Homo sapiens: one gene and its partners. The protein of the gene in region 4 purifies or fractionates together with the protein of the main gene of each other region. This does not show direct contact. Each region holds a gene or a part of one and is shown on either strand. Other genes may lie near its edges.

Region 1 (3,500 bases), on a different chromosome or scaffold from region 4:
AAACTTCATTTAAACAACTTTTATCTTCATTTTTCACTAATATTTCCAACAGCTAGTCTCATATATAGACATATATAAAATGCACTTAGAATTGCTTACTTACATAAGTATGTTTTTCTTTCATGTAATCACACAAATTACAGTGTGACTATATGCTTTATCCTTAAAAGAAATCTGATATCAAATATGAAAGAGTGACATCTGCTGTTTTTCATGCTCAGCATCCAATGCCACTGCTTATGGTCAGAGGACCATTATTTTTCTTTTTTTTTTTTTTTTGAGACGGAGTCTCATTCTGTTGCCAGGCTGGAGTGCAGTGGCGTGATCTCCACTCACTACAACCTCCACTTTCTGGGTTCAAGCGATTCTCCTGCCTCAGCCTCCCAAGTAGCTGGGATTACAGGCACATGCCACTACACCCAGCTAATGTTTTCGTATTTTGAGTAGAGATGGGGGTCTCACCATGTTGGCCAGGATGGTCTCGATCTCCTGACCTTGTGATCCGCCCACCTTGGCCTCCCAAAGTGCTGGGATTACAGGCATGAGCTACTGAGATTACAGGCGTGAGCCACCACGCCCGGCCAGGATCGTTATTTTTCTTTAGGGTACCACTCCTCTTTCTCTTGCCCTCTTCAGTTTCAGTGGCAATGGTCTCAGTCTATTTCTGGGACTTCAGGAGGAAGCATTGAGCAGTACATTCCATACCCCTGACCACAGTGGTTCATGGCTTAACAATGATACTCAATCCTGGGACTTTTATTGGAGCCAGTGGGCAAGAGAAGCTCTATAGCAGCTGAAAATATGTAAGACTGGATTCTAGGAACTGCTGGTGGCCATAACACTGCATGGTAAAGCCAAGAAAAGATAAAAGCAGAACTGAACAAGGGATAAAATCTTGATGACATCAATTAAGCCACTGATCCAGTTGTGCGTGAGGCAGATTACTGCTAGACTTTTAAGTTATGTGAGCCGATAAATTTATTTTATTTGGTTAAGCTGCTTGCATTTGGTTCCTTTTTACGATGACCAAGTTTCCTAATTAATATATATCATCTTTCATATAGTTAATGTTACCTTTTCATTTGGTTTTCACACACACACAAATGATGTATACCAACTAGCTATATGCAAATGATAATTGCTTTGGTCCGTTGTGGTGGCTCACGCCTGTAATCCCAGCACTTTGGGAGGCCAAGGCGGGCAGATCACTTGAGGTCAGGAGTTCGAGACTAACCTGGCCAACATGGTGAGACCCGTCTCTACTGAAAATACAAAAATTAGCCAGGCGTGGTAGCACACTCCTAAAATTCCAGCTACTCAGGAGGCTAAGGCATTAGAATCACTTGGGCCTGGGAGGAGGAGGTTGCAGTGAGCTGAGATTGAGACACTGCACTCCAGCCTGGGCTGATGAGTGAGACCCTGTCTCAAAACAAATAAAAAAAAAGATAATTTTTTTTTCTAGAAAGATAAATAATACACCCTTACTACTTTGATCTCAATTATGTTTTAGAAATCATGACATTTCTATTAGTCTTTAATCTTAACAGATGATATTTAGTAAACACATAGTGCCAGGTACTATAGAATGACTCAAATGGTTATCTTCTTTTAATCATCATAACAATTCAATAAAGTAAGTGCTATTATTTTCATTCCTCAGAAAAGAAAACTGAAGTTCAGAGAGTTAAGCAACCAGCTAGGGTCACACAGCTGGTAAGTCACAGAGCCAGGATTGAAACATTAGTACATCTGCCTCCAAAGCACATACTTCTACACTACCTCCATACACATATATTTTATTCAGGCATCCGAAAAACATCTGTTGAGTACCTATTATGTGCAAAACTATGTTTTAGGTCCTTGCAGGCTACATACAAAGATATTTAAAATTAGACTGTCCATGAAAATAAAGTTTAACTTAGAGAAATAAGTTTGTATAAAAATTATTAGAGGCCGGGCTTGGTGGCTCATGCCTGTAATACCAGTACTTTGGGAGGCTGAGGCAGGCAGATCACGAGGTCAAGAGATCAAGACCATCCTGGCCAACACGGTGAAACTAGTCTCTACTAAAAATACAAAAATTAGCTGGGCGTGGTGGCACATGCCTGTAGTCCCAACTACTCGGGAGGTTGAGGCAGGAGAATCACTTGAACCCAGGAGGTGGCGGTTGCAGTGAGCCAAGATCGTGCCACTGCACTCCAGAATGGCAACAAAGCAAGACTCTGTCTCAAAAAAAGAATAAAATAAAAAATAAAAAATTATTATATACTTTAAGCAGATAACAATAAATATCACAGACAAGTAAGAAAAAATGCTATGGAAACAGAGAAGAGAATCAAGGGAGAATCAAAGAAGGCTTCAAAAATGTAGCTACTGCAGGATGCAGTAGCTTGCACCTATAATCCCAGCTACTGGGGAGGCTGAGGCAGGAGGATTGCTTGAAGCCAGGAGTTTGAGACCAGCTTGGGCAACACAGTGAGACTCTCTTAAAAAAAAAAAAGTAGCTATTAAGTTGGACCTTAAAGGATAAACAGTTTTGAATCTTAAGAAAAAATACTCAAAGACACAGAATGATAAAAGAGCAAAGGTCTGCTATTATAAAAGTATATAATATGCTAGGGGCATGTTGAATTGTCTGCTATGATTAATGTGTGAGGTTCATTGTGGTACTTCAAAATGGGAGTAATTATTACAGGTTTAGACACAGATAAGCTTCCTTGGACGGTACAGTGAAAAACCTCCACAGAATGGATGTTAAAAACCAATTAGATTTCTGAAGAGTTCTTGGTTCTAAAAGGCTGAATTCTGAGGTAAAATTATGTTTTTAGAATAATACTGTTATTATCCTAAAATAACAAGAGAAGCAAGAGGTATTCTACTTCTTGCTCTCTAGTTGAGACTTTACCATGCTAAGTTTTTAGAACTTAGGAGAAAACCACAATAATCTGCTTAGGGAAAGAACCTTAAGAGGCAGAGGCAGAGAAAGAATAATGAGCTCTCTCCCAGACAAATAACACAAAGCAAAAAAAACAAAAACACACACACACACACACACACACACACACACACAAAACAAACAACCTACAGGCCAGGTGTGGTGGCTCACGCCTATAATCCCAGCACTTTAGGAGGCCAACGCAGGAGGATTGCTTGAGCTCAGGAGTTTGAGACCAGCTTGACCAACATGGTGAAACCCTGTCTACAGAAAATAAAAAAATTAGCTGGGCATGGTGGTGCATGCCTGTGGTCCCAGCTACTCAGGAGGCTGAGGTGGGAGGTCAAGGCTGCAGTAAGCCGAGATCATGCCACTGCACTCTAACCTGGGTGACAGAGTGAGATCCTGTCTCAAAACAAACAAACAAAACAAACAGCAACAACAACAAAAAAACAAAAACAAAAAACAACCTACAGATGTGAGAATGAGAATGCAAAGACTTTGAAGAAGCAGGAGGATCCAAGCTTAATGGGTAGAGGTAGAGATATTGGCCTTGCCCAAGAAG
Region 2 (3,500 bases), on a different chromosome or scaffold from region 4:
CGAAGCCCTTCAGCTGCCCATCCTGGCCGCACGCCAGCTGCCGGAGGAAGGCAGGCAGTCATGAGCATCTGGGCAGCAGTGACTGCACCACCCCGGGAAGTGACAACCGTAACCAGACTCAGCTGCCCCATAAGGGTGAACTCCACGCCAGGCCTCCACTGCCCTGTGCCTCATTCCTGCATCAGCTCATCTGATTTTCCCAATGACCCTGGGAGGCTGCATCATACCCATTTCTCAGAGAAGGCAACTGAGGCACGGAGAGGTCAGCGCACCCAAGGCCACACAGCTGGAGGGAGGGCGGAGCTGGGAGCCACCTCACCAACAAAGCCAAGGCCACGGGCGGATGCGGTGGCTCACACCTGTAATCCCAGCACTTTGGGAGGCCGAGGCGGGCAGATAACCTGAGGTCGGGAGTTCGAGACCAGCCTGACCAACATGGAGAAACCCCGTCTCTACTAAAAATACAAAATTAGCCAGGCGTGGTGGCACATGCCTGTATTCCCAGCTACTTGGGAGGCTGAGGCAGAGGCAAGAGAGTCACTTGAACCTGTGAGGCAGAGGTTGCGGTGGGCCGAGATCGCGCCACTGCACTCCAGCCTGGGCAACAAGAGCAAAACTCCATCTCAAAAAAAAAAAAAAAAAAGAGATAATCAGCAACGGGTGGGGAAGGAAGGGCTCTCGTTCCAGACAGTGGCCAAGCCAGGTAGCAGTGCTAAGGGAAGTGGTTGGGCTGGGCACCGGCACTTGCTGAATGCCCGGGCAGCAAAGGTGCAGGTAGCAGCCCTTCACCTCTGCCCACGCCCTGTGCCAAGGTCTGGGCACAGATCTCCCATAACCAAACCTGTCGGCTTTTGTTTTGTTTTGTTTTTTTTGAGACAGAGTCTTGCTCTGTCACCCCGGAGTGCAGTGATGTGAACTTAGCTTACCGTAACCTCCACCTCCTGGGTTCAAGTGATTCTCCTGCCTCAGCCTCCTGGTAGCTGGGATTACAGGTGTGCACCACCACGCCCAGCTAATTTTTGTATTTTTAGTAGAAATGAGGTTTCACCATGTCGGCAAGGCTGGTCTTGAACTCCTGACCTCAAGCGATCCGCCTGCCTTGGCCTCCCAAAGTGCTGGATTACAGGCGTGAGCCACTGTGCCCGGCCATAAACACACCCATCTTAGGGATGAACAGAGAGAGACTCAGAGGGGTCACAGAGTGATCAAGGCCACACAATTCCTAAGTCGAGGGACTGATGTGTGAACCTCAAGCTGCTTCACTGTCAAGCCCACCCTCCATTCAGCTGGGTCACCTAACATTAAAGGTGGGCTCCTCGGAGGACATCACTTCAACGCCTGCTACTCATCAGATGCTCAACAAATGTTTGGTGAGACCAGGCCCAGTGGCTCGAATCTATAATCCCAGCTCTTTGGGAGGCAAAGGCAGGAGGATCGTTTGAGCACAGGAGTTTCAGACCAGCCTGGGCAACATAGGGAGACCCCATCTTCACATAATTTTTTTTTTTTTTGAGGGAGTCTCGCTCTGTTGCCCAGGCTGGAGTGCGGTGGCATGATCTTGGCTCACTGCAACCTCCACCTCCCTGGTTCAATCAATTCTCCTGCCTCAGCTTCCCGAGTAGCTGGGATTAAAGGCACCTACCACCACGCCTGGCTAATTTTTTTTCTATTTTTAATAGAGACAGGGTTTTTGTTTTTTGTTTTGTTTTTTTTGAGACGGAGTCTCGCTCTGCCACCCAGACTGGAATGCAGTAGTGGGATCTTGGCTCACCACAACCTCTGTCTCCCAGGTTCAGGTGATTCTTCTGCCTCAGCCTCCCAAATAGCTGGGACCACAGGCACATGCCACCACACCCAGCTAATTTTTTTTTTTGTATTTTTAATGGAGATAGGGTTTCACCATGTTAGCCAGGATGGCCTCGATCTCCAGACCTCGTGATGCACCCACCTCGGCCTCCCAAAGTGCTGGGATTACAGGCGTGAGCCACCGTGCCATGAGACAGGGTTTTACCATGTTGGCCAGGCTGGTTTCGAACTCCTGACCTCAAGTGATCTGCCCGCCGCAGCCTCCCAAAGTGCTGGGATTACAGGCATGAGCCACTGTGCCCGGCCTCTACATAAAATTTTAAAAATCAGCTGGGCATGGTGATGCATTCCTGTAGTTCCCCAGCTACATGGGAGGCCAAGGTAGGAGGATTTCTTGAACCCAGGAGGTCGAGGCCGGAGTGTACTCCTCCAGCCTGGGTGATTGAGAACCTGTCTCAAAAAAAAAAAAAATTAAGTTTAGTGAATGTTCGAGTGGAGGAATGAATGGGCAGCTGTTCACAACAACCTGATCATGAAGCACTGCCAGCCCCATTTTGAGATGTGGAAACAGGCTAGGAGAGTACCTGTAGCTGGTCATGACCCTGTGACCTTTGATCTCCACATAAGAAGGTAAGGCCAGGCCAGCGCAGTGGCTCACACCTGTAATCTCAGCACTTGGGGAGGCCGAGGCAGGTGTATCACCTGAAGTCAGGAGTTCAAGACCAGCCTGGCCAACACGGCGAAACCCCATCTCTATTAAAAACACAAAAATTAGCTGGGTGTGGTGTCAGGCGCTGTCATCCCAGCTACTCGGGAGGCTGAAGCTGGAGAATCACTTGAACCCAGGAGGCGGAGGATGCAGTGAGCCAAGATCGCGCCCCTGCACTCCAGACTGGGTGACAGAGCAAGACTCTGTCTTAAAAAAATATAAAATAAAATAAAAGAAAGGTGAGGCCATTGTGCTAACTCATCTTCTGTCCTGAGCCCGCACAGGCGGCCTGGTACATAGCAGGCCTGGTACGTAGCAGGTGTCCAAGAGAAAGCAGCAGAATGGATGAATGATAAGTAAACAGAGAGGGGGTTCCCGTGGCTCATGGATACTCAGTTTTTGTTTTTTTTGTTTCTTTGAGACGGAGTCTCGCTCTGTCGCCCAGGCTGGAGTGCAGCGGCACGATCTCCACTAACCGCAACCGCAGTCTTCTGGGTTCAAGCAATTCTCCTGTCTCAGCCTCCTGAGTAGCTGAGATTACAGGCGCGTGGCGCCATGCCTGGCTACCTTTTTTTTTTTGTTGTATTTTTAGTAGAGACGGGATTTCTCCATGTTTGTCAGGCTGGTCTCAAACTCCTGACCTCAGGTGATCCGTCCGTCTCGGCCTCCAAAGAGCTGGCATTACAAGCGTGAGCCACTGCGCCTGGCCTGTTTTTTTTTTTTTTTTTTTTTCTGTTTTTGAGATGCAGTGTTGCTTTGTCACCCAGGCTGGAGTACAGTGGCGTGATCTCAGCTCACTGCAACCTCCACCTCCCAGGTACAAGCGATTCTCCTGCCTCAGCCTCCTGAGTAGCTGGGATTACAGGCCTGCACCACCACACCTGGCTAATTTTTTTTGTATTTTTAGTAGAGACAGGGTTTCACCATGTTGGCCAGGCTGGTCTTGAACTCTTGACCTCAAGTGATCCACCTGCCTCGGCCTCTC
Region 3 (4,018 bases), on a different chromosome or scaffold from region 4:
ATTAATTGAACCCGGGAGGCGGAGGTTGCAACGAGCCGAGATTGCGCCACCGCACTCTAGCCTGGGCAACAGAGCAAGACTCTGTCTCAAAAATAATAATAATAATAAAGTTTTTACTGCTACCAGTATGGTATCTTTTTTTTTTTTTCCAGCATTCCTTTAGCAGAAGATTCACAAGACCAGTAACATCTTTTAAGTGTACGACAAGAGGCAGAATATATTTAAAATCTAGTTGAATTTGTTGTCAACACACATCAATGTTTTCTAGAATATCCTAGAACATCCTAGTACAGAAGGTGAATGACAACATTCACAGCAACTGGATGCAGAAATCTCCCTGAATTAACATTACATATCTTAAGTAATTTACCCTGTATATTTTCATTGGTGGACTATATGCCATATGCCTTCATCCAAGCACAGTAAGGATCTAGTTCAAAACTGAACACAACTTGAAAATTTTAAAATTTCAAAACACATGCATTCCATACACAACATTTATACTTACAAAACTATTTGGACATACCATCATACAGCTTAACTTGCTCTATGACTAATTATTGCATTAGGTGAATCCAACATTTCGTAAACTTATCAATGGTAAAAATTTATTGTTCAAAACACTACGATGAAATGCATTAAAATAACACGACTGATGAACAGAAAGAGGGATAGAGGGGTAAATATATGATAAAACAAGTGGAATGCAATTTTTTTTTTGGAGGGGGTTTTGAGACAGTGCCTCCCTCTGTCACCTAGGCTAGAGTGCAGTAGCACGATCTCGGCTCACTGCTACCACCGCCTCCCTGCTACCACCGCCTCCCAGGTTCAAGCGATTCCCCTGCCTCAGCCTCCCGAATAGCTGGGATTACAGGCACCCGCCACCACGCCGGGTTAATTTTTTGTATTTTTAGTAGAGACGGGGTTTCACCATGTTGGCCAGGCTGGTCTCGAACTCCTGGCCTCAAGTGATCCTGCCGCCTCGGCCTCCCAAAGTGCTGGGATTACAGGCGTGAGCCGCTGTGCATGTCCGGAATGCAATGTTAACAGTAGGATCTAGGCGGTTGGGTGTATGACTGCTCCCCGTAAGTTTTATAATATTGACGGATAGTTCAAAATATTTTCCTAATAAATTGTTGGAAAAAATAATACTTGACACTTCTTTGGTCATTTACAATTTAAGCTTTTAAGGAGAGAAACACAGATTAAAGAAACTCCTCTGTGGCATCCCACACAGGCACTATAGTTGGGACAAACCTGGATTCAAATCCTACCTCAACCTTGCAACTAGCTGTGTGATCTAAGTAAATTACTTAAGCCCTCAACACCTAAATTTCCTCATCTGCAAATAGGTTCTAGGAGGAGTTACTATGAAGTTAAATTCTTCACATAAAGGTCTTAGCTCAGTGCCAGGCACACAGTAAGCACTCAAAACATCAGCTGTAGCATCATTACGAGATTACTAATTTTACGCTAAGCTGAAAGGGCATTCTTCATAAAGTAGTAATTTTTTGCCCTTTTGCTAATTGATCGTTTCTGAAACCATTCCCAAAAGGAAGACTCCTAAAAGGAAACTTACTTCTTATCATGCTAAGCGGGGAGGAAGTAAAAGAAAAGTGAGGGATATTGCTCAATCGATAGTACAGTATTGTTCGCCATCTGAAAAAAACCACTCAGAATTAAATAAGGAAAGTTTCCAGACAAACTTTAAAAGGTATTCAAACAACTCCTATGTAGAATTGGCTTCACCTCTGCAGGTTGATTGGGTACATCCCTGTTATGAGAAAACTTGTCGTATTCTTCCAAGTCCCTAATTGCGAGTAAGAGGCTAGGCTAGAACATGACATTCATAGTAGCCAAAATCTTTCTCCTAAATCAGGACATGCCAACGATCCCACTTCTTCACAGGTAAGACCACCACCCCGACTTTGGTCTAGATAACGGCTATGGGGGGAGGGGAAAGGAGGCAGGAAAATGAATTCGCGATGGTGTTACTGAAGAACCCTCCGGTTATTTCTCCTGAGACCCCTCCACGACTTATTCCCGCCACCACCACCCCCACCTGACCTCTCCCCAGTTAACTTCCAGACTCTGATGTACTAAAGATGCACTAAAGATGCACTTAAGAATCTGACACCTCCCCTCCCTGGGCCTAGATATCCCACCCCAGTGCTGGGGAACGTCGGGGGGAGGAAGGCAAACAACGGCCCCCTCCCCTCCCCCCCACCCAGCACCAAATCTTTGTCCCACCTGCCGAGGGACCGCTCGCCAGCGCGCTCCGGACCCAAGGCTGCCTCAGACCTGCCCGCAACCTTGTCCTAACTGGGCCTCGGCGACCCCTCCACGAACCTGAGTATGGCCCATTCCCGGCCCCGGGCCGCGCCCCGCCCCCCGCCGCCCGAGTTCTGCCTCACCTCACCTACCCTCTTTCGGGGGCCGGACTCCACCTCTCTCTCCGCCATGTTGGGCCCCGCTCGGAACCGCTGCGGCTCCCCGCGCGGTGGCGGCGGTACCTCTCGGCCCCCCGGCCCCCGCCCACACTGCAGGCACGGCCGCCTCGCGGCAGCTTCCCCGGACCCGGCCGGGCCTTGCGCCGAGAGTGGGGAGGGGGCGGATGCCGCGCGCCGGGCCGCAGCTTCTGAGATCCCACGGGTCCGCGCGTGGGCGGGAGGGCCTGCCCGGGGACGGGGTGGGGGCCGGGACTCGGGGGGTTAATGGCCTCCAAGGGGCCCCGTGAGTAGGATTATTTTCTCTCAGAGAAATTCCTCCGCCTGCGGTTTCTTAAAGGGATCACCAAATCAGCCCCTTGCGCGCGCCCCTGATGCGCAGGCGCACCCTAAGTCCCTCCTTCCTTTCCCACCAAGCCCCCGGTCCTGAGCGTGCGCGGTAAGTGGCCATGGGTAGGCCAAATCCTGCAAGTCTCTTTGCTGCCAGCAGCTGCTCCCACCACTCAACTATGGCCGCTCCCTTAAAGGGACCATGACGCAGGGATGAAGGAGAAATGAAAGAAATTACTGGAAAGACAATCTGGAGAATTGGGTGCAATGTCAGTGAAGGGTTCCACATCACCATCTTACACCTGACTACAGTGGTACCATTGAAGAGGGAAAGTCATGGTAAGCTGAAGTTCTCAGTGGACCTCTGAACATGAAGAATCCCAAACCAATGAGGGAACAAGACAGTCATCTCAAGGAAAACCAACTTTCCTCCCTTTCGACTGCCTGTTCTGAAGCACAAGGCATAGAATATCAAGAGCCAACTCCTATAACCTCACCTTAAAATCAAAGCTTTTGGTGATTTTGAAGATTGAACCAACAACTGGAAATAATTTCTTCAATAGTAATTTATCCTTAGAACATCAAAATGGAGAAGGATCTTAGGGAACCATTTACTCCAGTGCTCCCAATGATAAAATTGCAGCCTGATCATGGGAAGGAATTTGTCCCAATGTAACTAATGGCTGGTGTGGAGTTGGAATCAAGATTACAGTCTCAGTCCTCCAGGCTGTCTTCAGGCGAGAGATAAATTTGGTTTAATTTGATATCCCTAGAAGATTAAAAATTGAAGTTTCATGGTATTTGGAGAATATCATAATTCTCTTGTGAAGATGTAATGATTTGCAGATGATGGGTGTCCTCATTCACCTCTATTGAAGGAGCTTGACAATCTGCCTTAAAGGATAAGCATCTTATTTCTAAGCAGGAAACCAGGAAGTAGATTTGGGTCTATCTTGTTCCAAAACTGGGTCCTAAGCTGAAAATCGCTGAAAAGAATGAGGGCTTCATTCATTCCTCTTCTGTTCATTCTAGTTCCCACAAGCTTTGGGTGCAGAAAAAATTAAGTTTATAATGATAGTTCAGGGACAGTGGGGAGACATATAGTAAGAAATACAAAGAAGATGCCTCCTGAAGGTCATTTCCCATGACAAGACATATTCAAGTGGGAATGATAACTCCTGAAGTCACAGGATAATGAGATGTAACTTCTGTTTTCTGTTTTATTTAGCACTTGGTAGCTA
Region 4 (2,534 bases):
GGTAGAGACCTGGACAGATATCTTAAGCAATAATGTCTTAACTTCTGCCTGTCGCCTCAATGTTTTCAAACACCAGTGTGGCCAATAAATAGCAAACTGGAGACAGAAAACATGTTGTAATTTTGCATGGTTACAGAATAAGGTTCTGGTTAATTAAATATTTTGATTGGTAGAGAATTATTTTAAGTGGGTTACAATAAAATGCACTTACCATCAGTGAAACTCTAATTCAGTTCCTCTAGTGGTCAGAATATGGTCCAGTGTTGGAGTCATGATGACTCTAGGATAGAGATTTGTGAAGTGCTGGTTAACAGAAGGCTTGGATATGAACTTTAATTATTTTAAGAGAATTGGAATGTACAGGAAAGGGTAGGTGTATGACAAAAACAGGAAGGCTGCATTTGAGGATAGTCATTCACTAATTTCATAGATATAATTGAGCACCTACTATGGGCAAGAATTGGGAAGAGAAGGCCAGCCCCAAAGGTCCCCCTATTGCCAAGATTAAAGGGAGACAGGTCAGCATTTTTCAATCAATTTTATTTCAGATCCACTCTCACACTGTCCTATGAGATGAAAGAGGAAAAAGTTACATTTTTACATGAAAGATTATGATACAGTGTAGTGATAAAAAATATACACTTTGGGACCTGACTGCCTGGATTTGTATCTTGGTTCTGACATGTGTCAGCTGTGTGACAGTGGGCAAGTTAATTAACCTCTCTGTGCTTTAGTTTACTCATCTATAAATTAATGATGAAAGTAGATACAACCTCCTAGGGTTGTTCTGAAGATTAGAGTTAATATATTTAGAGCTCTTACCTCAGGAACCTATCTGCACTTATATTAGTCACTTGTTATAAAAACTGTTGTTAAGACTGAGGCTCTAAAGGTTTCTGGTGATTTGTCTTCAGTGACACGTGCATTTTTGAGCTGTGGCATTTAGGTCTCCTGACTCATATTGAGTTGCCCAATATTAAAAACATAACTCAAAAGGTCCAAAGGAACTTCCTTTACATACATCCACATTCATTCCCACATCCCCTAATACACATGCATTCATACACCAAAAATATTTTCTACTCACTTGAAGGAAATAATTACTATGGTGGGAAACAAAGTCCATTATTCTTCAATTAGAAAACAAAACAAAACAAAACAAAAACAAACTTAGAATAGTTTGAATGAGGTAAATACATTGGCAAATTAATTCACACTAATGTGTAAATGACTACCACTTGAGTATTTTCTAATAATGGGATTTGCCAAAAGGATCCTGGGGCCGTTTAGTGGAGAAAAGTTTTACCAACAAGTCACTGAAGATGCTGAAAAGCAAACATCCCCACATTGCACTGTACAACAAATGAACTCCCACCAGGGGGTCTCAGAATGCAGCCTGCTGTTTTCAGGACCTCTGAGCCACATTTCCTTGGGCCACATCTATACTTGCCTGGTACTGGCAGAGAACTACAAGAGAACCTATTGACAAGGTCGAGTTACATTGTGGCCTCAGAGTCTAATCATTCAGGCCACTCTCCACAGAAGAGTGAAGTTGATCAAGTTTATCTTCTGGTCCCAGACTTTCAGCTCCTGATATCTCTCTGAATACCAGGCCTACTCTGGTGTTTATTTTTCCTGCTCTGCCATCTGGCTCCCAATTTCTGTTGCTCTTTCCTCCTTCCTCCTATTTTAAACCTGCTATCAATAATAGATTTGGTGTCAGTCATTTACCCCATTGGACAGTGCAAATTAACGAGTCTTAACGTGGCTTGGCTAGTTAAGGAACAATTTTTTTTTCTTCCCCTACTGATGATGTTTTTAGTGATTTTGTTTTTGGAAGCAAGAAAACCTTGGGGCAGGGTTGGGTAATGGAGAGTGCTTCCCAGAGCCCCTGAAATCAAACCTGCGGGTCGCTGCCTTCTCTATTCACTCATAAAACTACTCCAGTAATCAAGGGGCTTGGAAATTTGACTAAATTTGTTTTTTGTTTTTCTCTCTGTACATTGACTTTTAAATTTAGATTTGTGAACAGAAGTTTTCTGAAAAGGAATTTGGTGGAAAGGCTTTATTCCCGTTAATAGTTTGAAAACGGGACTGGGCACAATGGCTCAGGACTCTAATCCCAGCACTTTGGGAGGCCGAGGCAGGTGTGTCATCTCAGGTCAGGAGTTTGAGATCAGCCTGGCCAACATGGTGAAACCCTGTCTCTACTGAAAAAATACAAAATTAGCCGGGTGTGGTGGTGGGCACCTGTAATCCCAGCTACTTGGGAGGGTGAGGCTGGAGAGTTGCTTGAACCTGGGAGGCGGAGGTTGCAATGAGCTGAGATGGCACCACTGCACTCCAGCTTGGTGACAAGACTGAAACTCTGTCTCAAAAAAAAAAAAAAAAAAAAAGAAAAGAAAATGGGAAAATGGAGGACACACTTTTCAGTGTAAACCAGGGTGCAGAGAACAAAAGGGGGTTTGGATTTTACAAAGTCAGTGCCCACCCATGTTGCCAGTTAGTTCTGTTTGTGCAAATAAAGGATTCAA
Region 5 (3,500 bases), on a different chromosome or scaffold from region 4:
ATTAGCTAAACAGGCTAAATTTAAAAACAATAAACAGCTGTTGGAAAGCTGTTTAGCTATTTTCCATCAGAGGATTTGCTGATTTGTAGCACAGGGCAAAGGCCCAAGAGAAAAACTTAAAATGTGTAGCAGTTTCACTGGGTTGAGTAGACAAGATTGGAATTCCGAGTTATTAAGTAGTCACGTCTTAAGGTGCCACAATCCCAAAGAAAAATGAACTGCAGAAATAAACCTCCAAAACAAAACAAAACCCTACATCCTGCGCACAATTTCCTTTCACGGCATTCACATTTTAGGAAACCAAGCAGAAAGAAGCTGCTAAGGAGGTTAAAATGCTAAGCTGGGGTTTTGGCACTTTCACTGCTCTAGGGAAACAAAAAACTGGAATTCAGGGTTGGTCAAGGAGAAGCTCTAGTAAACACTAAGGGACTAATGACAAACCGGAAAGAGACCAGCCTCATCTGTTTCAAGGAAACCTGTCCACACCCTGCCTGCCAAAACAAAATTAATTTCTTCTTGAAGTATCATCCACAGCTTCTACAATTAGGATGCTAGTAACAATGTAAAAGGTAGGTTTCTCTCCCATGTTTTTACAACTGATTATTGAACAGGATATGAGGTGTAGTCTGAGGTTCATTTTGTTTTTTTCTCTAGGTTAGATGTACCCCAAATTCCCATCGGTAGTAAAATGGATATGTAAAGTCTGGTACAGTCACACAGTACCACACACAGAACTAGTAACACATAACACGATTCAATCCATAGCTAGACCCACAAAAGTGCAATCTAGATGAATCACACTAGGCTGCCCATACCCTGTTGCACTTGTAAACAGATTTCATTTCTTGAAGATTTCAGCATCAGCCTCACTGTCTTTCTCCCACTATTCTTGCCATAATTCTTGGTAATTTCAATCTTCCAATTATTCTACACCTACCCCCCACCAGCTAAACATGAAAAAAACAAAACACAATCATAATGATTCATTTAAAATTTATGTCCACAGAACTTAAAGGGACTTCAGTCCACCTCAGTAATCCTAATATCACTTGACTTTCTCCACTGATTCACTCCTAGAGTCACCACGATCTGTTAACAGACTTCACTTTTTCTTCCTGCCTCAGTCTTTAATCTCTTCTCCTTTCTAATTAACAGCTGATCATCTGGCTTAGTATTTCACTGAGTAAGCGGAAGCAATCAGAAGGAAACTTCCACACGTTCCCCTTTCTTGCCTCCACTGGTGAACTCAACGACTGGTTTCTATGTTCACCTTCCTTGATGGATCAGCAGCATGTGACCTCACTGAGCACTCCCTCCTCCTCCATGTTTTCTTTTTGTTTACCTGACTTTGCGCACACTGTCCTGCTCTGCTTTCCCTCTTACTATACTGGTTGGGCCTTCACACATTCCTTTGTTATTTTCTCTTCCCTCAACATCTTAATGTTCAGAGTGCCCAGAATATACTGCTTGCTTCTGTGTTTTCTCTATCTCTACTCACTCCCTTGAAGATCTTCTCCAGTAAGATCATGACTTTAAATACTACTTTTAGATAGTTGATCATGACTCCTAAATGTATGTCTCTGGCCCACACCTCTGTCTAAACTTGTATACCCAACTGCTTGTTATCACCACTCAGCAAGTCCAAAACTGAACTCCTGATCTTCTTCCCCCAAACCTGATCCACTGACAGACTTCCATGCAAACTACATCCTTCAATTTGTTCAGGCTAAAGACCCTGGAGGCATCATTGATGATTGACACTCTCTCTCTCTCTCCCCATTGCTTTTCTTCTCTCCCCTCTCCATATCAAACCTGTCAAGAAATCCTGTTAATTCTACTTTCAAAACACATTTATAATCTATCCATTTCTTACCAGTTTCACTGCTACTTCCCTAGCCCAAGTATCACCTGGATACTCCAGTAGCCTAGACTCCCTGGTTCTACATCTTGGCTACAACTATTTTCAAAAGAGCAGCCTTTTAAAAGGCACTTTTGTTACTTTGCTCGAAATCCTGCACTGGCTTTCCATTTTACTTAAAACGGAAGTCTGTACAATGGCCTATAAGGCCTTATTGATCTGTTCCTCCCCGCTCTTCATTATTCCTCTAATGTCATCATTTGCCCCGACCATGGCTAGCTCTTCACCCCGACCTGACCACACAGGCCTCTTTGTTGTTCCTTGAACATGACAGCCACACAACCACCTCAGAGGCTTTGCATCAGCTATTCTCCTTGCTGAACACAGGATATCCTCAGGACTACTCCCTCACTTTCTGCAAATCTTGGTTCAAATGCCACCTTATCAATGCAATCTATGAATACTCTGGCACCCTCATTCTCCTTGCCTGGTTCTGCTTTTTCTTGTTGTACAACACTATTGCCTTCTAACCTACTATACAATTATGTATTATATTTATTATCTATTATCTGTCTCCCTCTACTAGAACATACCCTCCATTAAGGCAAGGTTCTTCTTTGTTGTTGCTGTTTACCAACATATTGCCTAGAATGCTACTGGTACATATTAAGCATTCCGTAAATATCTGTTCAATGAAAGACTCTGCAGCCCCATACCTTCTTCCTGTGACCCTGGAGAAATTGTCAGTGCTCCCAGATATGGACTAGTACACCAAGTCACAATCTCCTTCACCTCAGTAACTTTGCTCTTGCAATTTTCCCTCTCTCTTGCATCATTTCCCCCCTTTATTAGATCATTATAATCAGCATATAAACATCTTTAATCCTTTTCCCACTTGCTCCGACAATATTTGCCAGCACCGCTTGCAGCTGCAGCATTTGCCCCAACATAACTCTGCCATAAAATATCTTCACTTTTATGATTATTTTCACATAGCTCTAGTGTACTGACTTTGGAAACAAAAGACATTCTATTTCAAGCATTCTGTTTTTAGTAGCGGTACGTCCATTTACAAAATATAGTAATTTTCAATAGCTGAAAATGTCAAATCCTAGAAAATGCGGAATTCCTATGTGTGATGTTTACATCATTCTCAAAAAGTTGTTGGCCGAAGATTGATTTGATAAATCTGACTTTTAAAAAACAGACATTCTGATGATTGGGACGATTCTGATGTTAGTACTGTTTAGAAATAACTCTAAGAACAGTTTTTATATTTTATTTTCACATTGAAAATTAGTCAGATTTGCTTCAGCTTCAGAGAGTGTGTTTACGTAAAATTAAATGAGCACTGGTGTTGAGCTGCACTTTTTTTCTAAACAGGAAAAGGGTTAAAAACCTTCCCTTAATTCAACAATATTCAATTGCTACTGCTTCATTTCTCTGCTCTTTTGTCACAATAAAACTAGAAAATTATCTATATTCATTGACTCCACTTCCAATATTCTCATTCTCTTAACTTCTCTCTTATCTTATTCAGAATAAAATCCAAAGGCCTCCCAACTGGGTCTCTGTCATCCTCTCCTACCACTCTCCCCTCACTCAGCTCCTGCCACACTGGCCTCCTGGCTGTGCCTTCTAC
Region 6 (3,500 bases), on a different chromosome or scaffold from region 4:
GTTGGGTACTATGTTCACCATCTGGGTCACAGGATCAATAGACGTCCAAATCTTGGCATCACACAATATACCTTTGCAAACAAATCTGCTTATGTACCCCTTGAATCTAAAATTAAAATTTAAAAAAACCTAGAAACAATGACCAACCCCAAAATTACAGCACACACTGCCTCCCAACAAAATAAAATAGTGTTTGGGACTTCTGGAAATTTATCTGTGAAGGAGCAGGTGCTGGAAGCAAGAAATTTGAGATAGAAACCAACATTTCTATAACTAAGAAATAAGAGAATGAAATAATATGAGAAAAAAAATTCTAAAAATGGTAACATGTTAAGGACAAGAAAAAAACTGACATGACCCATTAGAAACTAGAATTCCATGAATTCTTCCACCTTTTTTTGTGATCCTTTATCTCCATGATAATACATAATTCATTCATAGATGCCTCATGAGACACCATGTTGGATACTAAAGGTAGAGTTAAAACACACAGTTGCTGTTCTCAAGGAACTTGGAGTCTAGTATACTTGACAGATAAGGAAAAAAGCAATTGCAATTTAGGATAAGTGGGGAAGGGTCACCTCACAAGTCTTGAGAAAGAGAAGATGGGGAAGGTAATAAGGCTTTGAGGGGTTAAGAATATCTATAGTGAGTCTTGAAGAATGAATGGGATAGTTAAGGTAAAGAAAGTGAAAGGGGCATTCCAAGTAAATGTTACAGCATTTGTAAAGTTATGGAGGTAAGAAACCCTTTGCATTGGAGGAAACCTAATAATTCAGTATAGCATCGTATTTGTGTTTTGGAAAGTCTACGAAACAGCTGAATGCTAGTGGAGCAGTGTCAAACTGGAAGTTGGCTACTAATTAAGATGCTATCACAGTAATCTGGTCAAGATATGTTGCAGGCCAGAGCTAAGGGGGTGTCAATAGGGATAGCGAGGAGGGAAAGTGAATGGGTGTGGCTGCAAATAGTACAGGGTCCCTGTGCTGCTGCTTTGGGAACCGAATTGCATTCTCAAAACACAATGTCCACTGTGAGTCCTAACATACTGATGGGAAAGAAAAGAAAAGTAGAGTTTAATATGTAAACACAAATGGCCCCTGGAAAGTTTAAGTTCACATAGTTTCTAGTCACTAGTTCTTCAACAATACTTAGGAGCTCTCCTTGGTTTCTGTAGCCACATTGCTGGTTTTGACTCAGTGATAAGAGAGACACAGAAAAGACTGCAAAGGAAAATAAAAGGGAGACTGGAAGGAGGAAGAAATGTTATCTTGATTATAATACCTGGCTATTGTGATTGCTGGAAACTGTTTCTATGAAATATGTGACTACTACATTAATATTTCATAAACCATCATGTTGATATTTTCGCAAAACAAAGTTAGACGACTTACAATATTTTCTCATTTAGGCTTCAGGTAAGTTTGCAAATGATTAAAAATTATAAAATTTCCTGTCAATGTCATAAAAAATAAAGTATTAAGAAGACAACATTTTCCTTACCAGAATAGAGTGCATTCCCATGTAAATTCTACTTAGGCAAACTAGAGAACACCAGCAGGGAATAAGAATCAGTCCATATATAAGAGGGTACTAAAGGGGAAAAAAAGTAAAATTAGTTAAACAAATTTAAGTTAGATATAAACAAACAAATAAAAGACAAATCAAATCACTATTCTATAAAGTCCACTAAAACAAGAAATTTGTTTTTACTCCCCATTGTATTTCCAGCACCTAACCCTGAGTATGGCACATGGCAGACATTCAAGAAATACTTTTCCACAAATGAACAAATGAATGAAATCTCATGTGTCTAAATTCTTTATTGTGGGAACTGGCTCACTTCTGCTTCTACAATGAAGATTCAATCACTGGCATGGTATAGGAGGAGGAGGACAGGTAAGAGACATACTTTTAATATGGCCACCAAAATGAAAGGGCCTCTGGAATAGTACCTGAATCTGGTCCATGTAAATGTCTTCAGTTGTCTGGGGAGGAGGATTGGCATTATCTCCCTCTCACTTCATCAGTGACTGCTATCTCCAATTTATATTGCTATTCCCCTACCTTGCATTCAGTATTCAACACTTTGTACTTAGTTTTTCACTTCCACCCCATTGACTAAAATTTCAAATGGTCCCCTTACTGAGAAAAATTTCCGTGGAATACTAGGAGCACAAATCATAAAAGGGAAAAAGCATAAACAGAAAGTGCAGACAATTCTTGGTATCAATGGCACTAGTGGAAAAGTTGGCTGTGAATGTCCTGAGATTGGAGGGAAAGAGGAAAGGATGGATGGGCATGGTGGTAAGTTTGTAAAGGGAAGAAGGGAGGGCACATTTGGGGCTGTTTATGCCTGATGACTTCAAATTTCTCAATGAAATTGAAGCCAATGTGGTTAGGGAAGTTGGGTTGAAATAAAGGAGCAAGGGACTTAAGTAAGCTTGTAAGAAGAGTAGAAAATATTTAGTACGAAATTGTTGGTTTTTGGTGGTTTGTTTTGTTCTGTTTTTTTAGAAAGACAGGGTCTCACTATGTTGCTCAGGCTGAAGTACTGAGGCTATTCCCAGGTGTGATAATAGCATACTAACACCTTGAACTCCTGGGCCCAAGTGATCCTCCTGCCTTAGCCTCCTGAGTAGCTGGAACTACAGGCAGAGTTGTTTTTTTTTTTGGTTGTTGTTGTTTTTTTTACATATCTACTACATTTAACATGGTCCCTCACTTTCTCCTTGAAACTCTAAATACCCTCGATAGTCATAGCTTCATACTCTCCTGGTTCACCTTTCACCATTTATTTTTTGCTGCATTTCCCACACAAGAGCGTATCTTCCTCTTTTTGTTCTTTAAACATTAGTATACAGAAGGATTCTGTCCTTAGTAGTTACTGACAGTCTTACCTTTTCCTTTTTTTTGAGACAGGGTCTTACTCTGTCACCAAGGCTGATGTGCGGCAGCATAATCATGGCTCACTGCAGTCTCAACCTCCCAGGCTCAAGCAATCCTCCTGCCTCAGCCTCCCGAGCAGCTAGGACTACAGATGGGTATCTCAAACTCCTGAGTTCAAGCGATCCACACACCTTGGCCTCGCAAAGTGCTAAGATTACAGGTGCAGTGAGCCAATGCACCTGGCCCCCTTTCTTATTTTTTTAACTACTTCTAGACTAGGCATGCTGAAGACCTACCCATTTCCCCGGGTTTAAGAACCATATATCCAACTCTGCACATATTTCCACCTTGAGGTCCCTATGGCAGTAAACCCACTATACCTCAAACCAAACTCATCATCATATCACCCACACTTGTTCCTCCTCTGATATTCCCTATTTCATTTGGAAACACCAAAAACCAAGTAATCCAAATGAGAAACATGAATTATCCTTAATTCTTTCCTTAGCCGTTGTATTCAACAAATAATCAAGTTTTACTAATTTTATATTCTAAATATTCCTTGGGAGAATAATTATATTCTTTTCTGGGAGTATAAGTTCCTATTCTTG
Region 7 (3,500 bases), on a different chromosome or scaffold from region 4:
GATTTGCCAAGTGGCAAATGAGATGAGCCCTTACCGAGCTCACTGTCTACCTGAAGGCAAGTGAGAAATAACAATACAGTAAGACGTGTTGTGAATGAAGAAGATGGGAGAACAGAAAGCAAGGGGACCTAAGCTGCCCTGGAGGTTTAAAGTGAAGCCTGAATTACCCAAGCCAAGGAGAGGATGCAGTGGGCAGAGGCAAAGATGATTCCACAAACGGGAAAAGTACATGTGGAAGCCAAAGGGTTTTAAAGTACAACATCCACCAGACATGTGGGTCCACAGGTTAAGAGTATTAACTCTGGAGTCAGACTGTCCAAGTTCAAATCCTAGCATTAGGACCCTAGAGCAGTCATCTCACCTCTTTGAGCCAATCTATAAAAAAAGAGACACAAATACTGTCTGTCACACAGGGCTGTGGAGAGGATTTAGGGGAATAAGCCATATAAAGACTGGTGCCGACAAGGCACAGTGCTCACACCTGTAATCCCAGCACTTCTGGAGGCTGGGACAGGAGGATCACTTGAGGTCAGGAGTTCAAGACCAGCCTGGCCAACATTGTGAAATTCCATCTCTACTAAAAATACAAAAATGAGCCAGGCGTAGTGGTGGGCACCTGTAATCCCAACTACTTGGGAGGCTGAGGCAGAAGAATAGCTTGAACCCAGGAGGTGGAGATTTCGGTGAGTGAAGATCATGCCACTGCATCCCAGCCTGGGTGACAGAGTGAGACTCTGTCTCAAAAAAAAAAAAAGAAAAAAGAAAAAAAAAGACTGGTGCCTGCCTCACAGGTGAATGCCCAGTAAACGGTAGCTTTTCATAAGTCTAGTACAAACCATTGAGGGAGAGAGTCAGTGGCAGACTAAAGGCTCTGAAGAATCCCACAGGTGAATTTTATTTGAAGTTTCCCATTTGCAGTAGAAACATTCCTGTCACAACAACTGTATTCACATCAGGTGAACCTGAGGCCCAGGGCCCAGGTGGGAAGTGCAGTCTGGACACATCACATCAGGCTCTTGTGGTCCTGCACTCCAGACCCCAAACGTGGCTGAACATGTGGCTCCCTTTTTTACCTCCTCTATGGGGCTCAGGCTGAATTGGCGTTCCTTCCTCCGGGTTCCCCTGGCCTGGCCCTCTGCCCACTGTGCACCACTGTCTGTCTGCCTGCTTGTCTGTCTCCATCCTCCCAGGTCAGGATGCCCACTCTGAGGTAAACATAGGCTTTGCGCCCACAGGATACTTGGCAAGTGCCCAATGACTTCTCCCTTTTTCTTGGCACCAGGGACTTGGTACTCAGACCCAGCCAACCAATCTCATCAGGCCTGGGTCTCCCCTCCCAAGCCTATTAGGGCACTAGATCCCCTCACCTCGAAGCTTCTCGCCAGGTTCCAAGTGGCAGGAGAACCCGAAATCTGAAAGTCGGATCTGCATATTGTCATCTAGGAGAATATTCTCGGGCTTCAGATCTCGATGCACAATGTTGTTGGCATGGAGAAAGCTCACTGCTTCCAGCAGAGACCGCATGATGGACCTGGGGGAAGGGGAGGCGGGTGCAGTCTCCTCCTCGGCTCCTCCCTGCCCTGTCCCACCCCCTGCTCACCCCTGGGGCTTCAGGCTCAACCCTTACCTGGTTTCCTTTTCAGAGAGGGCCACCTTCTCTGTGAGATAGTCAAACAGCTCTCCCTTCCGCATCCTAAGGGAAGGAGGGGCATAGGAGGCAGCTGCATCCCACAGTGGGGGCTGAGAAAACAGACCAGTGCTCATACAAAATATTGTGGAAGAGGCCACTAAAGATAGATCTCTGCAGACAAACCAAAGGGTCTAGAAACACAGCACTCCAACAAGGCAGTTTGGCCTGGTGTGTTGGCAGCTGAAATACCTGCATTATGCCATGATGGGGCAATTATGGCAAAAATAAGAGACTTCTTGTGACAATATAATTTATAGGAGGTTCTTGTTGAGAGTAACTATGCCTGAAAAAGGCCTCTCAAAGTGAATCTATAAAGAAAATGGACCAAAATTTCAGTTTTTTGTGGCACAAAGGTTGAATAGGACCTTATTTTGAAGTTTCGTCTTTAAAAGCTGAGGTTATAATTATGTGTCAATTAAAAATAATACTTTCAAAATTGAGGTTATACTTGCACTCTGCATCAGTCCTCAAAGTAACATTATCAGGTGCTGTTTTGGGGAGTGTAGGCACTCTGCATGGCTGCAGGATGGCATAATAGACATCCTTACGTCCCCTCTGACTTTTGCAGAGGGCCATTTCTGTAAATATATCGAAGCCTTCATGAATTTTTTCCAAGGGCCTCTTTTAAATCTTTGGAATTCAAATCATTCTCTTTCAAAATACCTTTGCAGTTGGTTTGCATTATACCAATTGCATCGGACATTCAGATTCTGACCAGAAAAAGAACTGATGGGCAGAGACAGACACCAGAATAGTTAGCGTGTTAAGCAGCGCGAGAGGCTGGTGAGTGAGGATCTATTTTCTAAGTGGTCAGTCCACTGCTGAACACTCTCTTTTTTTTTGGAGATAGAGTCTCGCTCTGTCACCCAGGCTGGAGTGCAATGGCACGAACTCAGCTCACTGCAACCTCCGCCTCCCGGGTTCAAGCAATTCTCCTGCCTCCCGATTAGCTGGGATTACAGGCACCGACCACCATGCCTGGCCAATTTTTTGTATTTTAGTAGAGACGGGGTTTCGCCATGTTGTCCAGGCTGGTCTTGAAACTACTAACCTCAGGTGATCCACCTGCCTCAGCCTCCCAAAATGCTGGGATTACAGGCATGAGCTACCACGTCTGGCTGGTCACTATTACTTTATTTTTTGAGATGGAGTCTCACTCTGTCGCCCACGCTGGAGTGCAGTGGCGCAATCTGGGCTCACTGCAAGCTCCGCCTCCCGGGTTCATGCCATTCTCCTGCCTCAGCCTCCCGAGTAGCTGGGACTACAGGCGCCCACCACCACGCCCGGCTGATTTTTTGTATTTTTAGTAGAGATGGGGTTTCACTGTGTTAGCCAGGATGGTCTCGATCTCCTGACCTCATGATCCACCCGCCTCGGCCTCCCAAAGTGCTGGGATTACAGGCGTGAGCCACTGCACCCAGCCACTAGTCACTATTAAAGAATTTGCCTCAATCATGGCACCAAGGGAGAAGGCCAGAGCCATGCGCTAGCAGGCAGGCCCAGGTGATAGAGAGCCCCAGCTGGAACAGGAAGGTGTGAGCAGGATGGGTCCAGCCCACTGCACCACAAATGCTGGGCCATACATGGAGGTGGGGAGGAGGCTTCTCAGATGGTGGCAGGGAGATACTCACAGGTCAAACACCAGGAACATGAAGCTAGAAGACTCGTAGGAATCGATGAGGGTGACTAGGGAGAGAGGAAGAGAGGCAGAGAGACAGAGATGGAAAGGAGTGGATGCACATTAACGGGGCTTGGCCACCCTGGGACAGCAGCGGGCTGTTACTGGGAAGAAAGGAGAACCAGAGGAGGC

What was found.
Region 1: the proteins of SCGN (region 4) and BBS7 purify together in Homo sapiens (affinity purification with mass spectrometry; 3 studies listed by BioGRID and IntAct, with this or other methods). This does not show direct contact.
Region 2: the proteins of SCGN (region 4) and RAVER1 purify together in Homo sapiens (affinity purification with mass spectrometry; 3 studies listed by BioGRID and IntAct, with this or other methods). This does not show direct contact.
Region 3: the proteins of SCGN (region 4) and ZMYM4 purify together in Homo sapiens (affinity purification with mass spectrometry; 3 studies listed by BioGRID and IntAct, with this or other methods). This does not show direct contact.
Region 5: the proteins of SCGN (region 4) and OPA1 purify together in Homo sapiens (affinity purification with mass spectrometry; 3 studies listed by BioGRID and IntAct, with this or other methods). This does not show direct contact.
Region 6: the proteins of SCGN (region 4) and SGPP1 purify together in Homo sapiens (affinity purification with mass spectrometry; 3 studies listed by BioGRID and IntAct, with this or other methods). This does not show direct contact.
Region 7: the proteins of SCGN (region 4) and PHKG2 purify together in Homo sapiens (affinity purification with mass spectrometry; 3 studies listed by BioGRID and IntAct, with this or other methods). This does not show direct contact.

Annotation. Positions count from the first base shown.
Region 1 is NC_000004.12:121,828,975-121,832,474, forward strand, and holds part of BBS7 (BBSome complex member BBS7), read right to left. Parts: intron 1-3,500.
Region 2 is NC_000019.10:10,323,530-10,327,029, forward strand, and holds part of RAVER1 (ribonucleoprotein PTB-binding 1), read right to left. Parts: intron 38-3,500; coding exon 1-37. UniProt on the Homo sapiens protein: Cooperates with PTBP1 to modulate regulated alternative splicing events. Promotes exon skipping. Cooperates with PTBP1 to modulate switching between mutually exclusive exons during maturation of the TPM1 pre-mRNA.
Region 3 is NC_000001.11:35,267,491-35,271,508, reverse strand, and holds the start of ZMYM4 (zinc finger MYM-type protein 4), read right to left. Parts: upstream 2,801-4,018; 5' UTR 2,463-2,800; coding exon 2,424-2,462; coding exon of another isoform or gene 2,415-2,423; intron 1-2,414. UniProt on the Homo sapiens protein: Plays a role in the regulation of cell morphology and cytoskeletal organization.
Region 4 is NC_000006.12:25,697,215-25,699,748, forward strand, and holds part of SCGN (secretagogin), read left to right. Parts: intron 1-211; exon of another isoform or gene 212-1,760; intron 1,761-2,534.
Region 5 is NC_000003.12:193,638,208-193,641,707, reverse strand, and holds part of OPA1 (dynamin-like GTPase OPA1, mitochondrial), read right to left. Parts: intron 1-3,500. UniProt on the Homo sapiens protein: Dynamin-related GTPase that is essential for normal mitochondrial morphology by mediating fusion of the mitochondrial inner membranes, regulating cristae morphology and maintaining respiratory chain function.
Region 6 is NC_000014.9:63,697,066-63,700,565, forward strand, and holds part of SGPP1 (sphingosine-1-phosphate phosphatase 1), read right to left. Parts: exon of another isoform or gene 1,732-3,500; intron 1,594-1,731; coding exon 1,504-1,593; intron 1-1,503.
Region 7 is NC_000016.10:30,751,425-30,754,924, reverse strand, and holds part of PHKG2 (phosphorylase b kinase gamma catalytic chain, liver/testis isoform), read right to left. Parts: intron 3,377-3,500; coding exon 3,322-3,376; intron 1,694-3,321; coding exon 1,628-1,693; intron 1,532-1,627; coding exon 1,368-1,531; intron 1-1,367. UniProt on the Homo sapiens protein: Catalytic subunit of the phosphorylase b kinase (PHK), which mediates the neural and hormonal regulation of glycogen breakdown (glycogenolysis) by phosphorylating and thereby activating glycogen phosphorylase. May regulate glycogeneolysis in the testis.